Homo sapiens: one gene and its partner. The protein of the gene in region 2 interacts with the protein of the main gene of each other region in a pairwise test. Each region holds a gene or a part of one and is shown on either strand. Other genes may lie near its edges.

Evidence for each region. Proteins that work in one complex are often made in the same cells at the same time.
Region 1: the proteins of RASSF5 (region 2) and REL interact in binary tests that used the Homo sapiens proteins (3 or more experiments, as listed by UniProt).

Annotation. Positions count from the first base shown.
Region 1 is NC_000002.12:60,926,571-60,932,144, forward strand, and holds the end of REL (proto-oncogene c-Rel), read left to right. Parts: 3' UTR 1-5,042; downstream 5,043-5,574. UniProt on the Homo sapiens protein: Proto-oncogene that may play a role in differentiation and lymphopoiesis.
Region 2 is NC_000001.11:206,502,786-206,510,531, reverse strand, and holds the start of RASSF5 (ras association domain-containing protein 5), read right to left. Parts: upstream 3,002-7,746; 5' UTR 2,930-3,001; coding exon 2,473-2,929; intron 1-2,472. UniProt on the Homo sapiens protein: Potential tumor suppressor. Seems to be involved in lymphocyte adhesion by linking RAP1A activation upon T-cell receptor or chemokine stimulation to integrin activation.

The DNA of each region.
Region 1 (5,574 bases), on a different chromosome or scaffold from region 2:
TGGTGCTATTTCCCCCTACCCGCCCTCCGATGATCTTATCAGAGCCCACAGGTTCAGTTTTCTTTCATGCTACCTGAATGTCCTGATAAACTGGCTCGCTCTCTTCTTTACCTTCCATAATGGCATTACCATTTACCACGCCACCCAAGATACTTACTAGGAACCTCAAAGTATTGTATTCTTTTTCTCCATCACACTCATACTTAATCATCAAGTCCTTTTGAGCTTGTCTCCTCTTGAATATGTCCCTTCTTAATTCCTGCTGCCTTCTTAGTAAAGGCCTTCATTCTTTTTTCCCTAGTAATAATCTTTTCCATATGTTCCAGTTAAAATACCATGTTCTCCCTATTCCTTATTACATAGCTAGCATTCCTTGAAAAAAAACAATTCTCTCAGGCCTCCATACCTTTAGCATGTTACCCACTCTGCCTCTGCTCTTCTGGAACTAGAACACTCATCCTTGAAGGCTGGGCTTCTGTATGAAGGTTGGTCCTGCCTCCTTACTTGAGGTGAAGCTTTGTACATGCCTGTATTACGGACATCCTCTTATTTAAGTGTTTGTCTCTTTCGTCATTGGGACTCCAGCACCCAGCATAGTCCCTAGTATACTAGTTGGTGCTGAATAAATAGTAGCTATTATTAGAAAAGGAAGGGTGAAATTGACATGGGAGTTAGTAAAATGTATATGGAAATGATTTTTAAAGGGAAAGGTAATGATTTTCTGGCAGGAAAAGCAGCAATGACAAGATTACTTAAGTCTTGTGAAATAACACTTCTCTTCCTTGACCTGCTGCTTCCCTTTTTTACCACACACACACGCACACATACCACAGCCCTTTGAGACTGAAAGCAGCTCTATTGAGAATAGTAGTGTCAACTGTATTATGTAGAAATTCTAAAGTTTTTGGGATTATTTCATAGCCCTGACCTTGCTACTTCTCTCCACTTTATGTGGCAGGTTTAATCTCAGGTCTCCCTCATACACTTCTCAGCCTCAGCACCTAACCCTCACACAACACTCCAGTATTGATGCAGTCAATCTTGTATAACATTTTTTGAATGTCCAATGTGCAAAGCACGATGTTGGAAATTATACAGAGGTGAATAAGACAAAAACTCTTGCTCTCAAAGATGTCAGTCTTTTTCTTTGCAAGGATAACACATGTAGAGTAAAATGCATAAAGGGGACTAATTTTAAATGTACAGCTTAATTAATTTTTATGTATGTTAACACCCATGTCACCACCATGTTTAGGACATTTCCAGCACCCCTGAAATTTCCTTCATGCCCCTTCCCAGTCTGTACCTACACCTCTAAATCTATTTTCAATCTTAATGGCCTTTTAAATAACTGGGCTTCTCACAACCATAGTGAACAGAAACAGCTGGGTTGTCAACGTCTAACCTAATACTTCAGGAAAACTCATGATGGTTTCCATGTTAAGAGAGACATGGAGCAGGGCACTGGCATGGTGGATGGATCACGCCTGTAATCCCAGCACTTTGGGAGGCCGAGGTAGGGGGATTGCTTGAGCCCAGGAGTTCAAGACTAGCCTGGGTAATATAAGGAAAACCTGTCTCTGCAAAAAAAAAAAAAAAAAGAGGATACAACCAAATGGAAGAACATTCCATGCTCATGGGTAGGAAGAATCAATATCGTGAAAATGGCCATACTGCCCAAGGTAATTTACAGATTCAGTGCCATCCCCATCAAGCTACCAATGCCTTTCTTCACAGAATTGGAAAAAACTACTTTAAAGTTCATATGGAACCAAAAAAGAGCCCATATCGCCAAGTCAATCCTAAGCCAAAAGAACAAAGCTGGAGGCATCACACTACCTGACTTCAAACTATACTACAAGGCTACAGTAACCAAAACAGCATGGTACTGGTACCAAAACAGAGATATAGATCACTGGAACAGAACAGAGCCCTCAGAAATAACGCCGCATATCTACAACTATCTGATCTTTGACAAACCTGAGAAAAACAAGCAATGGGGAAAGGATTCCCTATTTAATAAATGGTGCTGGGAAAACTGGCTAGCCATATGTAGAAAGCTGAAACTGGATCCCTTCCTTACACCTTATACAAAAATCAATTCAAGATGGATTAAAGACTTAAACGTTAGACCTAAAACCATAAAAACCCTAGAAGAAAACCTAGGCATTACCATTCAGGACATAGGCATGGGCAAGGACTTCATGTCTAAAACACCAAAAGCAATGGCAACAAAAGCCAAAATTGACAAATGGGATCTAATTAAACTAAAGAGCTGCTGCACAGCAAAAGAAACTACCATCAGAGTGAACAGGCAACCTACAAAATGGGAGAAAATTTTCGCAACCTACTTATCTGACAAAGGGCTAATATCCAGAATCTACAATGAACTCAAACAAATTTACAAGAAAAAAACAACCCCATCAAAAAGTGGGCGAAGGACATGAACAGACACTTCTCAAAAGAAGACATTTATGCAGCCAAAAAACACATGAAAAAATGCTCATCATGACTGGCCATCAGAGAAATGCAAATCAAAACCACAATGAGATACCATCTCACACCAGTTAGAATGGCAATCATTAAAAAGTCAGGAGACAACAGGTGCTGGAGAGGATGTGGAGAAATAGGAACACTTTTACACTGTTGGTGGGACTGTAAACTAGTTCAACCATTGTGGAAGTCAGTGTGGCGATTCCTCAGGGATGTAGAACTGGAAATACCGTTTGACCCAGCCATCCCATTACTGGGTATATACCCAAAGGACTATAAATCATGCTGCTATAAAGACACATGCACACGTATGTTTATTGCGGCATTATTCACAATAGCAAAGACTTGGAACCAACCCAAATGTCCAACAATGATAGACTGGATTAAGAAAATGTGGCACATATACACCATGGAATACTATGCAGCCATAAAAAATGATGAATTCATGTCCTTTGTAGGGACATGGATGAAATTGGAAAACATCATTCTCAGTAAACTATCGCAAGAACAAGAAACCAAACACCACATATTCTCACTCATAGGTGGGAATTGAACAATGAGAACACATGGACACAGGAAGGGGAATATCACACTGGGGACTGTTGTGGGGTGGGGGGAGGGGGGAGGGATAGCATTGGGAGATATACCTAATGCTAGATGACGAGTTAGTGGGTGCAGTGCACCAGCATGGCACATGTATACATATGTAAGTAACCTGCACAATGTGCACATGTACCCTAAAGCTTAAAGTATAATAAAAAATAAATAAATAAATAAATAAGAAAAAGAAAGCCAGGCATGGTGACATGTGCCTGTGGTCCCAGCTATTAGGGAGGCTGAGGTGGGAGGATCCCTTGAACCCAGGAGGTTGAGTCTGTAGTGAGCAGTGATTACGCCACTGCACTCCAGCCTGGGCAAGACCCTGTCTCAAAAAAAAAAAAGACTTAGAATTGGTGATCCAGGCCGCCTAATGGCATCAAATAATTTGTTATATCTTTAATTTATTGAAGGATCACCACATGCTTTTAAATAGCATGGAGAAATGGAAAGAATAGGGACTTTTTACTCAGGTAATACCCAGCCTGCTACCTAACAGGTTGTGTTGTACTAAATAAAATGGTACATAAGAAGAAACACTGTAAATTATATAGTGCGAATCAAATATTGTTAATAAACCAATATCTGTATATCCTATGTCCCGGATTAATCTTTAATTTAGATACTCCTTCTAGTTATCTAATACACAGCAGAGTGAGAAAAATCATTATGGATTAGGTTCTTTAGTAAGAAACCTGAGATGGACTTCTCATTAGCATTAACTAGTTATTGCCCAGCTTTGGAGAGCCTTCTTTTGGCTTATCATTTATTATAAGCCCAGAAATAGGTGACTAATCAGAGATAAATGTATGGGTTGTCTGTATCTAGTTTTATGCCTTTTTTTTGCCTAAGACGTAGTCAAATTAATATTTTAACTAATACATCTTAGCAGAGTTTAGTTAAGCACAAAGTTAACAGTGGGTAGGATTGAATCTTGAAAGTAATCATGTCTGTAATGTTTTTCATGCATGCAAAAAGCACAGACAAAACCACTCATGCCCTATTAATAAACAAAATACAGATCAAAGTTTTCAAAAGTAATCACTCTATTTATTCTAAATGTCTGTGGCTTTAGGAAAATACCACCAGCTAGTACTTACCTATTTAAAGATGTAGAATTTATTATCCTCTAATATTCTTATCAGTTGTTTCCACAACTTTAGTTTACTATTGGACTTTCAAAAATTTAAAGAATTACAAGTAAAATTCATTAAACACTTGTGTGTGAATAGTAATACACAGTAATTAGTACAGCATGTTGCTTCTTCAACAAATTGAGTTTTCAGGGAAATCAGCAAGTAAATGAAATATAAATTTTTGGTAAAAGTATCAAACATTCATCTTGCCCATTTTTCCTCTTAAACTTTATTATCTAATCAAACATAGTTTTCCATAAGATGTAATAAAATATAGATAAGGTTGGAATATTTGAGGATCCATTTGTGGAACTGAATTTAATGAGACTTCATTGGTGATACACTCAATTTTTACTGGGTAATTAGCTAATAATGTTGGTCACTGTCTCACAGTTCAAGTAGCTTTAAGATGATGTGGCAAGGAAAACACAAAGCTTTTGGGTAACCAGCGTTCTTAAATGTATGGTTTTTGACCAGGTGAACCCTTTAGAAGTGATTTCTGTTTTAAAAGTATGTACTTAAAATACCTTTGGCTGTGATGAATGTAGATCCCAGCAGAATACCAAAATCCTATTTTTTTTGACTGAGTATTTGTAGATGCTTAATGACTGAAATGAATTTGGAGGCACTGATGAAAGTGATTTTTTTAAAGTTCTCAGGTACTGTTCAATTATTTAATGTTAAGTTTAGTATCAAGATACAGTTGTTTTTAAAATGCCAAAATGCTGTTTATTATACAGAATATTTTATTACATTTGCAATATCTTTGTATATAGTGATTTTTTTCTTGATAATAAATGGAAAAATTCTAAAACACTTGCTGAAATTTTGTTGCTATTTAACTTTTAAAATATCAGATTTTCTTCATATTTATAGCATCTTCCTAACAGGAAAAGGTAGTTTTAGTTGCTTAGAAACATTAGACATTTTTATGGAATGCTGTTGCTGAATATGGTTGCATTTGTAACTGTCCTTTGAAATAATTTTGTAGAGTACTGAAGTGCCTTTTTACAAGATTTTTTTCCTTTTTCCTTTTCTGGCTTAACCAACAAAAATCTGTTTTCAGAGTCCTGGAGGCTGAAAGTCCGAGATCAGGGGTACTAGGACGGTTTCTGCTGAGGCTCTCCTCCTGGCTTGCAGAGGGCTGCCTTCCCATCATCCTCACATGGTAGAGAGAGAGAAGGATGGAGATCTAGGGTGTCTCTTCTCTTTTTTGAGACAGAGTCTCACTCTGTCATCAAGGCTGGAGTGCAGTGGCACAATCACATCTCACTGCAACTTCTGCCTCCTGGGCTCAAGAGATCCTCCCGCCTCAGCCTCCCAAGTAGCTGGGACTACAGGCGCATGC
Region 2 (7,746 bases):
GTTAGATGGGAGGGGACAATAACAATCATATCGAATTAAACATTCGTATTGCATTTTGCTAGGCCCTGTTCTGAGTGCCTTATGTATATTAATCCATTTAATTCTCAGATTAACATGATGAAGTAGGTAATATCATTATCCTATTTTTTTTAAACAAAGAAGCAGAACACAGAGATGTCCAGGACTCACGTGGGGACTAAGTGGTAGTCAGGATTCAAACCCAGGGCTCTGGTTCCAGTCTGTACTCTTAACTACTGCATAGTATGATTTTTTTTAAAGTCCTATTTCTGACACTTGCTTTTCAAAATGAAGATAAAACAAAGCAACCTCACCATGGAATCAGACCTTCAACTTAAAGAAAGATGCTCAGCGAGTTTGGCCTGCTGTGTCTCCACCTGCCAGCCCTCATCTGCACATCAGAACATTTCTCAACTTTTGCCATCCAGCCATAGGTTCACAATTAGTTAAATATTAATCATGACAAACAGAGACTCCTTTCTGTAGCCCCTCGATTCCAGTTTTGCTTTCTCTCCAGTGTTCAGACATCGTTAGCATTAAACCAACTCTGTGGGGGACCATGAGCGCCCAGGAAAGTAAAAAGACCTCACCAAGTCACACACAAAGTCAGAGGTACTGCCCGGGGGCCTAGATCTTCCTGCCACTAGAAACGACGTATGACTTAATCAAAGGAGATCGACAATTCTGATGTGACGTAAGGATCAATTCATTTAGTCATGGAGTATCACACACAGGCACACGCAAATACACACAAACGCACCATTATCACCAAACCAAAAAAAAAAAAGAAAATCACAAAACTATGTGCAAAATCTTCAACAAGTGATACAGTCCCCCAAAGTCTAACTACAAACTAGAATGCCAACGAAGCAGATTTCCTGGGATTCCAGCTATGATAAAACCCATTTCAGTGAGGCTCCTGCCTCTCTCCCTGTGTGTAGGGTTGTTGGATGCAGTAAGGGAATCTTGAAAGTGCAAAAGCTGCCAACACATCCAAGGATAAGTTGCATTTGATTCTACTGTAGTCAAAGGCATTTACCAAGGGACAGCAGCCCCTCTACCCACAACATGTACCTCTACAAACCTTTACTCCTTCCTTCTTAATTAGCACCTGAACTGGGGGTTCTGGTGGAGGAAAGAGCAGCACCCACTTGCCCTTCCAATCTTTCCCTTCCACTTGACCCAGGCTTAGTGTCTGAGTTCTATTTCCCTGCAGCCAGCTGCAGCGGGCAGCACATTGAACAGCCTCCGCTGCAGACTGCAGGCAGAAAAAGGGTAGGGTTTTCCTGATGTGGAAATCACTGCTGCTGTCCAACGCTGCAGTTGGATGGGAGACGTGAGGCTGCTGCCATAGGGGAAGGGCCTTTGCTGAAAGATGCAAACCACAATCCATTTCCAGAGATGCTTGTTAGAGGCTGTGCCATTGTCTGTGCTTTGGGCTTCAGATATTTGAAATATCCATGTAAACACATGAACACATGGCTGTGGATATCCTCTGATAAACACGCAAGAGCAAATGCCGGGGTGGGGGTGGAGGGTGGACACCTATTAAAGGCATACACACCCCTAACTGTAGGAGGAGAAAAATAATAAACCCCCAAGGAGACTGAAGATTGGCTCAGAAAATCTATACACTGGGGGCCCAGTGTTTTCTGGCTTTGAGAAGCGCCTGGCTCAGGAGGTGACTGGAGGGGCCTGAGGGCTGTGGAGAGGAAGGGACCCTGTCAGGAGCTGAGTAATGTTAGAGCATGACGACTAGGGCAGGAACCCAGGAGGAGGAAGGGGAGGAGGCAGGGCACAGCCAAACATTGGAGCAGAGTCCAAAGGTTTGAGGGGCCAGAGGTGAAAGGCAGGAGGGGGCACGGGTTCAGGGTGACTTCAGGCTCTCTTCAGCCTCACAGCCTGCCTTTATCCAAAATCTAACAAGGTCTCCTCCCTGTCCCAATACGTCCCCCTGGAGGAGAGGTCTGAGCCTGTACCATGGGCGGACAAACAAGCGTTTTGTCAGTAACCCTAATAAGCAAGGGTCAAACGGTCATCTCAACAGCAGTCTCACAACCCACTCCCAAGAACTCACAACAAAACCATGAGGGTGCACAGGGAGATGACAGAGGCCGCCGAGGCCATCACCCACCCACCCCCCACAACCTGTGTGCGAGTGTGTGTGTGTGTGTGTGTGTGTGTGTGTGTGGAGGGCCAAGGCACGCACCTGTCAGGAGACAGGTATCTGTTAACTACCGCATAACCATACCTAGGTAGTGGGCAGGCACTAAAGGATACCGGGCAGGGAACTAAGGAGCGGACTGTCCCCAGGGGTTGTTATCTCCTTATGTTCGGGGCTCCCCTGGAGCCAAAGAGTGTAATGGCCCCTCTCTCCCTGCCCCAGGGCCCTCCCAGTCCTTCGCCCCCAGACTGCGGTCTCCCCGCACGCCCCTCCCCTGCCTTCACACTTACTAGTGCAGCGCAGCGCCTGCCGCAGCACCTCTCGTCCGCACAGGTCACACCAGCCGGGGCCGCCCGGCAGCACCAACTCGGCGAAGCAGTGCCCCTCGCCTCGCTCCGCCGGGACTCTGGGATCCTGCGGCTGCTCGAAGATGCTCCGCACGTCGCGGGGTCGGGGCGCTCCAGGCCGCCGCCGCAGTCTCTGCTGCAGACCAGGCCGGAGCGGGCGAGCGGGTCGGGAGGCCCGGGGCGGGGGCTCCAGGTTCCCCCGGGCAGCCCTCCGGGCGCTGCGCCCCTCGCGCGCCCCGGGCGCAGTGGAGAGGGGCGCCGGGACACAGAGGCGCGAGGACCGGTCGGGGGGCGGCGGCGGTAGCTCGGGGCCGCTCAGGCTCTGTAGATAGCGCGGCGGCTCGGGGTCCAATAGTAGCGGGTACGGGCGCTGCCCGATGGCCGGGGACGCCATGGCCATGCCCGGCTAGTGGCGGCAGCTTTGGCAGCGGCGGCTTTGGCGACTGCGCTACTCCCGAGCCAGCCCCGAGAGAAGGGGCCGCCCCACACCAGCGCGCCTTTAAAGGAACCGCAGCCTGCTGGGCGGGGCGGGGGCGGGGAGAGTCGGAGTGGCAGGAAGGACGACCCAAGAGAACCGCCGACGGACCGAAGGGGGTAGGGTCCGTGCCAGGCGACGTCTGCGCGAGTGTGGATTTGGGGGCGTCTTCACCTGGAGCAGCTGCAGGATTCCGCAGAGGAGCGCCTCTGTACAGTACAGCTCAGAGGGCGCATTTCTGCGGGGGGCCCTAGGCCTTCAGCCCTGCCTCTTTCCCTTGCCAATCACTTTCCCCAACACCAGGTTCACCCCCGACCCGCACCCTCACGCGCCCCGGGAGGGAGCAGGTCGGAGGGAAAAGCTTGGGAACTGGCTCGATGGGGTCTGAGTAGGGCCCCTCCGTCTAGGCGTCCGCTCGCCACTCTCCCGCTGATGGTGCCGACAGGAGGGCCGTGCTCCTTGGCCCTTCCTCTCTCCGGCTTGTCGCCGCCCGCCGCCCCCTCTAGAGCGGAGCTCGACGCGGGTCCGGAATGCCCCGCGCGCGCTCCCGCAGCCGCGCTTTGTCCCGTGGGTGACCGCCGGATGCCTCCAAGGGCTGGCAGAGCTGTCCGCGTGCGACTTTCGCTCTGGTTGGATTTCCCCTTCCTTCGCAGCCCTGCCGGGTAGGGTATTCCTCTTTCCTGGAAGACTGGTGGGGGGTGGAGGGGAGTTGGGGGGGCTCCATTGAGAGAACGCTCCCTCGCCCCAAGGGTTGGGGGAGCTTTTCTTCCTTAGCCAACCCTCCGTTCCCCAGAGCTGCTCTAGTAATTACTGTGGAGATACCAGTTCCCCTAAATGCCCTAAGTGGAACCTGGTATGGATGGTTCACTCATGGGACCCAAAGAGAGATCTCCTTTCTCCCGGCACTTTCCCCCGTGAAGGCTTGCTTCAAGCCTTCATGGACCCTTGTCTGGTTTAACGCTCTGCGGTCACCATCTTGAAAGTCTTACTTTTTGAACAAAGGGCCAGGCGTTTTCTTTTTGCACTGGTTCCCACAAATTATGTAGTTGTTCCTGACAGGCACCTTTGCCCATGGAAACAGGCCCATCTTATGGATAAGGAGGACTCCTGGATCTCTGAACCTGGGCCTGGGCCCTGGCCCTCTCTAGCCCCAGTATTGTTAACTGTACATTGGGCTGGAGGTGGGGAGACAGGTGGTTGTTAACGTGGCACTCTCCAGCTCCGTCATTATGACTCAGTGATCACAGCTTTCCTCTTAAAACACAGGTTCGGTTTGGTCCGTCTAGCGGTGGTCATTTTTTAGAAGAATAGTCTAAATTCTTCTGGACCTGGTCTCTCCCTTCTCTTCCCAGGCCAGAGATGGGTCTCCCCCTAGTGCTTCGTAGGGGAATCTTCACTTTTGCTTTTTGTTTTTCCCTTGGAGGTAATTTTTAGGTAATTCCTAAGATTTCCAGAGTCCAGTGGCCAGGGAATTCCCAGCCAGCTTTGCTCCATGGCTTCTCCCTCACGGTAATCATAGTCCTCTGCCTCCCAAATCTGTAGCAGAAGAGAGGTTCCTGGGGCTCTGGGGGCTCACCAGAGGCGGGAGCTCACCCTATGAGGTGGTTTCTGAGGAATGACCCATGGGACAGTCAACCCCACAGTGCTACCAAACAGAGGAGCTCCGATGAGGGGTGTAAGCCACAGGCCACCGCCTCTGCCCCACCCCTCCTCTACCTTTCCTCTTCCCTCTCCTAACCTTGCTTTTGCTACATCAGTGGTTTTCAAACCTTGGTATGCATCACAGTCATCTGGAGGGCTTGTTAAGATTATTGGGCTTCATCCCCAAAGTTTCAGAATCTATAGGTCTGGGGCTGGGGTTTGAGATGGCTCATTTTGAGCAAGTTCCCAGGTGTTGATGCTATTGATCCAGGGACCCAACTTGGAAAACCATTGCTCTAGGTCTGAGGTGGTGATTCTGAGAATGGGCTTCTCTGTTCCTTCTCCCCAGGACAAGTGTACTTCAGTGGACCTGACAGATAAAAGCCCAATGAGGGCTATTCCTGAATACTTTCTGCTGAAGGTGTAAAAGGGAAAATACAATTTGCCCTTGTGGTCTCTTATTTTAATCTCCCACTTTTTCTGCAAGCAGTTCTCTTGGGGTTGTTGCAGAAATCTGTATTCCATATAAATATTTGCTGTGTCCACACTCTGTTACCCATCTCCACACACTTGAGACTCATCCCCTTCCTGGAGTGCAGTGGGTGGGTGAGGTCCTGGGCATGGAAACAGCTTGAGCTCTGAGTGACAGCCTGGTGGGGCAAGAAGCAGCAGGGATCTGACAACAAGTGCATCCCTGGAAGATCGGCTTTGAAAAGCCATTTGTGAAATAATTGCTAACAGTCTCCATCTCTGTCCTTCCCTGCAGCCTCAAAGCATGGTTTGGGCAGCCCAGCCCAGATTTCCTGGATAGAGAGACTCATGAGGAGGAGCGTCATCTCTGGCCACGGGAAACTGAGGGCTATCTGAAACCATCAGGCATAAAACTCTTCCCCAGTTGTCTGGGCTGTACAGAAAAATGCTCTAGTTTTTGTTTTCCTCCTGCAGCTCTGATTTGGTGGAGTGGCAGTGGCTGCTCTTAGCATGAATGTGGGAGGAGATTGTGCAGGGCCAGAGCCCTATATTTGGCTTCTGGGGTGGGAAAAGAGATGAAAATGGAGATATTAATCATATAACTCCATGTAACCAATCAAAAAATTTATCATAAAGTTTATCTTAAAGTTCATCTCCTTGAGCCAAGAAATTAGAGTTGGGGCGGGCAGTTGCCCTTCTTAACCTCAATGTGAGGCTCCCTGGCTGGGGCATGTCTCCTCTGATGCCAGTTTTCCCAGCCCAGTCCCCTTCTTCCTTGAAATAGCATTTCCCCACCAACCCACGACACACACATAGACTTCTTTCTTGCTCCCATGCACACACACACACACACACACACACACACACACCCCACATGAACAGCAGAGTATTCCTTCTTCCCCAGGGAAGAAGTGCTAAAGAAACTCTAGTCTCATTATAAGCTCAGGACATTGCTGGGGTAGTGTCAGATGCCTGGACTTTAACATTTTTTTTGATCTGTCTGGTCATCCAGGCTACAAGGGTAAGACCGCAGCATCCGCTGAAACACCTCCACTGGGAGATCTTTCCCCTTGTTAGTAGATCCTCTTGGCTCAGACCCATTGACTTTTTTCTGTTTGTGACTCACTCCCAGCAGAGTGGGTGTGCTGCTTTTATTTTTGACCAAGGGGAAGGATTATGACAGTGAGTTTAGAGTGTGTGGTCAGGGTGTGAGATCACTTCAGAGGTGGTCCCAGAGCGTGCTGGTTTTCCCATTGGGTGAGTTGTTTAACTGCTGCCGCCCAGCCTCCCTCCCCAAGTTCCCTAGTAAGAAGGAAAACGGAAGGACAGAACATGGCCTGACTTCCTGAAGGGGACATTTTTGGTTTTGTTTGACTTTGAGGCGTCTGAAGTCGCCTGAAATCCCCGAAGCTTTCAGGGAACTCCCAGGGATTCTGACAGTTGCACAACTGTCTACATGGAATCACTGTAAGAGTCAGGACAAGTTAGGTTATGCTGTAGTAATAAGCTCCACAGCTGAGTGCCCTGAAATAACAGACTCCTTTCTCGCTCACATTACATGCCTTTTGCAGGTTGGCAGGTGCTCTCTTCTCATCAGACTCACCATGTCTAATATTGCCAGTCACTGTGCCAAAGGGAGATTGAGAGAGCCTGGAGGATCCCACATCAGCATTTAAAAGCTCCAGTCACTTTTGCTCACAGCTTATTGGCCAGAACTAGTCATATGACCCCACTCTACAAACAGGAGCAGATGTAAAATTCTACCTTGTGCTCAGAAGGGGAAAGGGCTGGAAATATTTGGCAATCAGCGCTAATGGCCAGTGCAATCTTCAAGGGCATAGAGCAGTTATTCATTCATTTAATGAGTAATTCTCTGATATCCACTATGTATCAAGCACTGTTCTAGGCACTAAAGGTACAACAGTGAAATGGATATGTTCATGAAGCTTGCATTTAGTGAAAGAGCCAGACAATAAACAGACACAAGAGTAATATGATATCAGGTTGTAAGCACTTTGATGAAAAATCAAGCACATTAAGGGGATGAAGGTGATAGAGGCTACTCTATTAGATTGAGTAGTCAGGAAAGACCTTTCTGAGGAGCAGACATTTAAGCAGATCTGAATGAAGCAAGCCCTTTGTCAATCTGGACAAGAGTGTCCCAGACTAAGAGAACAACAGGCACAACAGCCCCAAAAACTTTTCAAGCTTTATGAACCTGAGTTTGTTCAAAATGCCTATTCTGGGACCTGACCCTCTGATTCAGTATGTCTGGATTTTGGCCGGGATTTTGCAAGAGACTTTGATTCAGATGGCTCACAGACTACACTTTAAAAATGGGGTTACAGCAGTAAATAGTTAAAATGGTGTGACCCCCTCCACAGACATTTGGAAAAAAATGCCCTTATCTTGGTTAGCTATGAAACACAGGTCTCCAGTGCTGCTTCCTTTCCTTCTTGGGCAGCATGTTGCATGCAGAGCTCAGCTTTCCAAAGAAGTGAGTGCTGCTTGCAATGTGTGATGGGGGTCAGTAATATTTTACATTACTAGACTGAGAGCAGGGACCATGACAAAATGTTGTTGGAGGATCAAAATGTGTTTGTGAGAGAAATCCCTTGTAAAGTGCCATA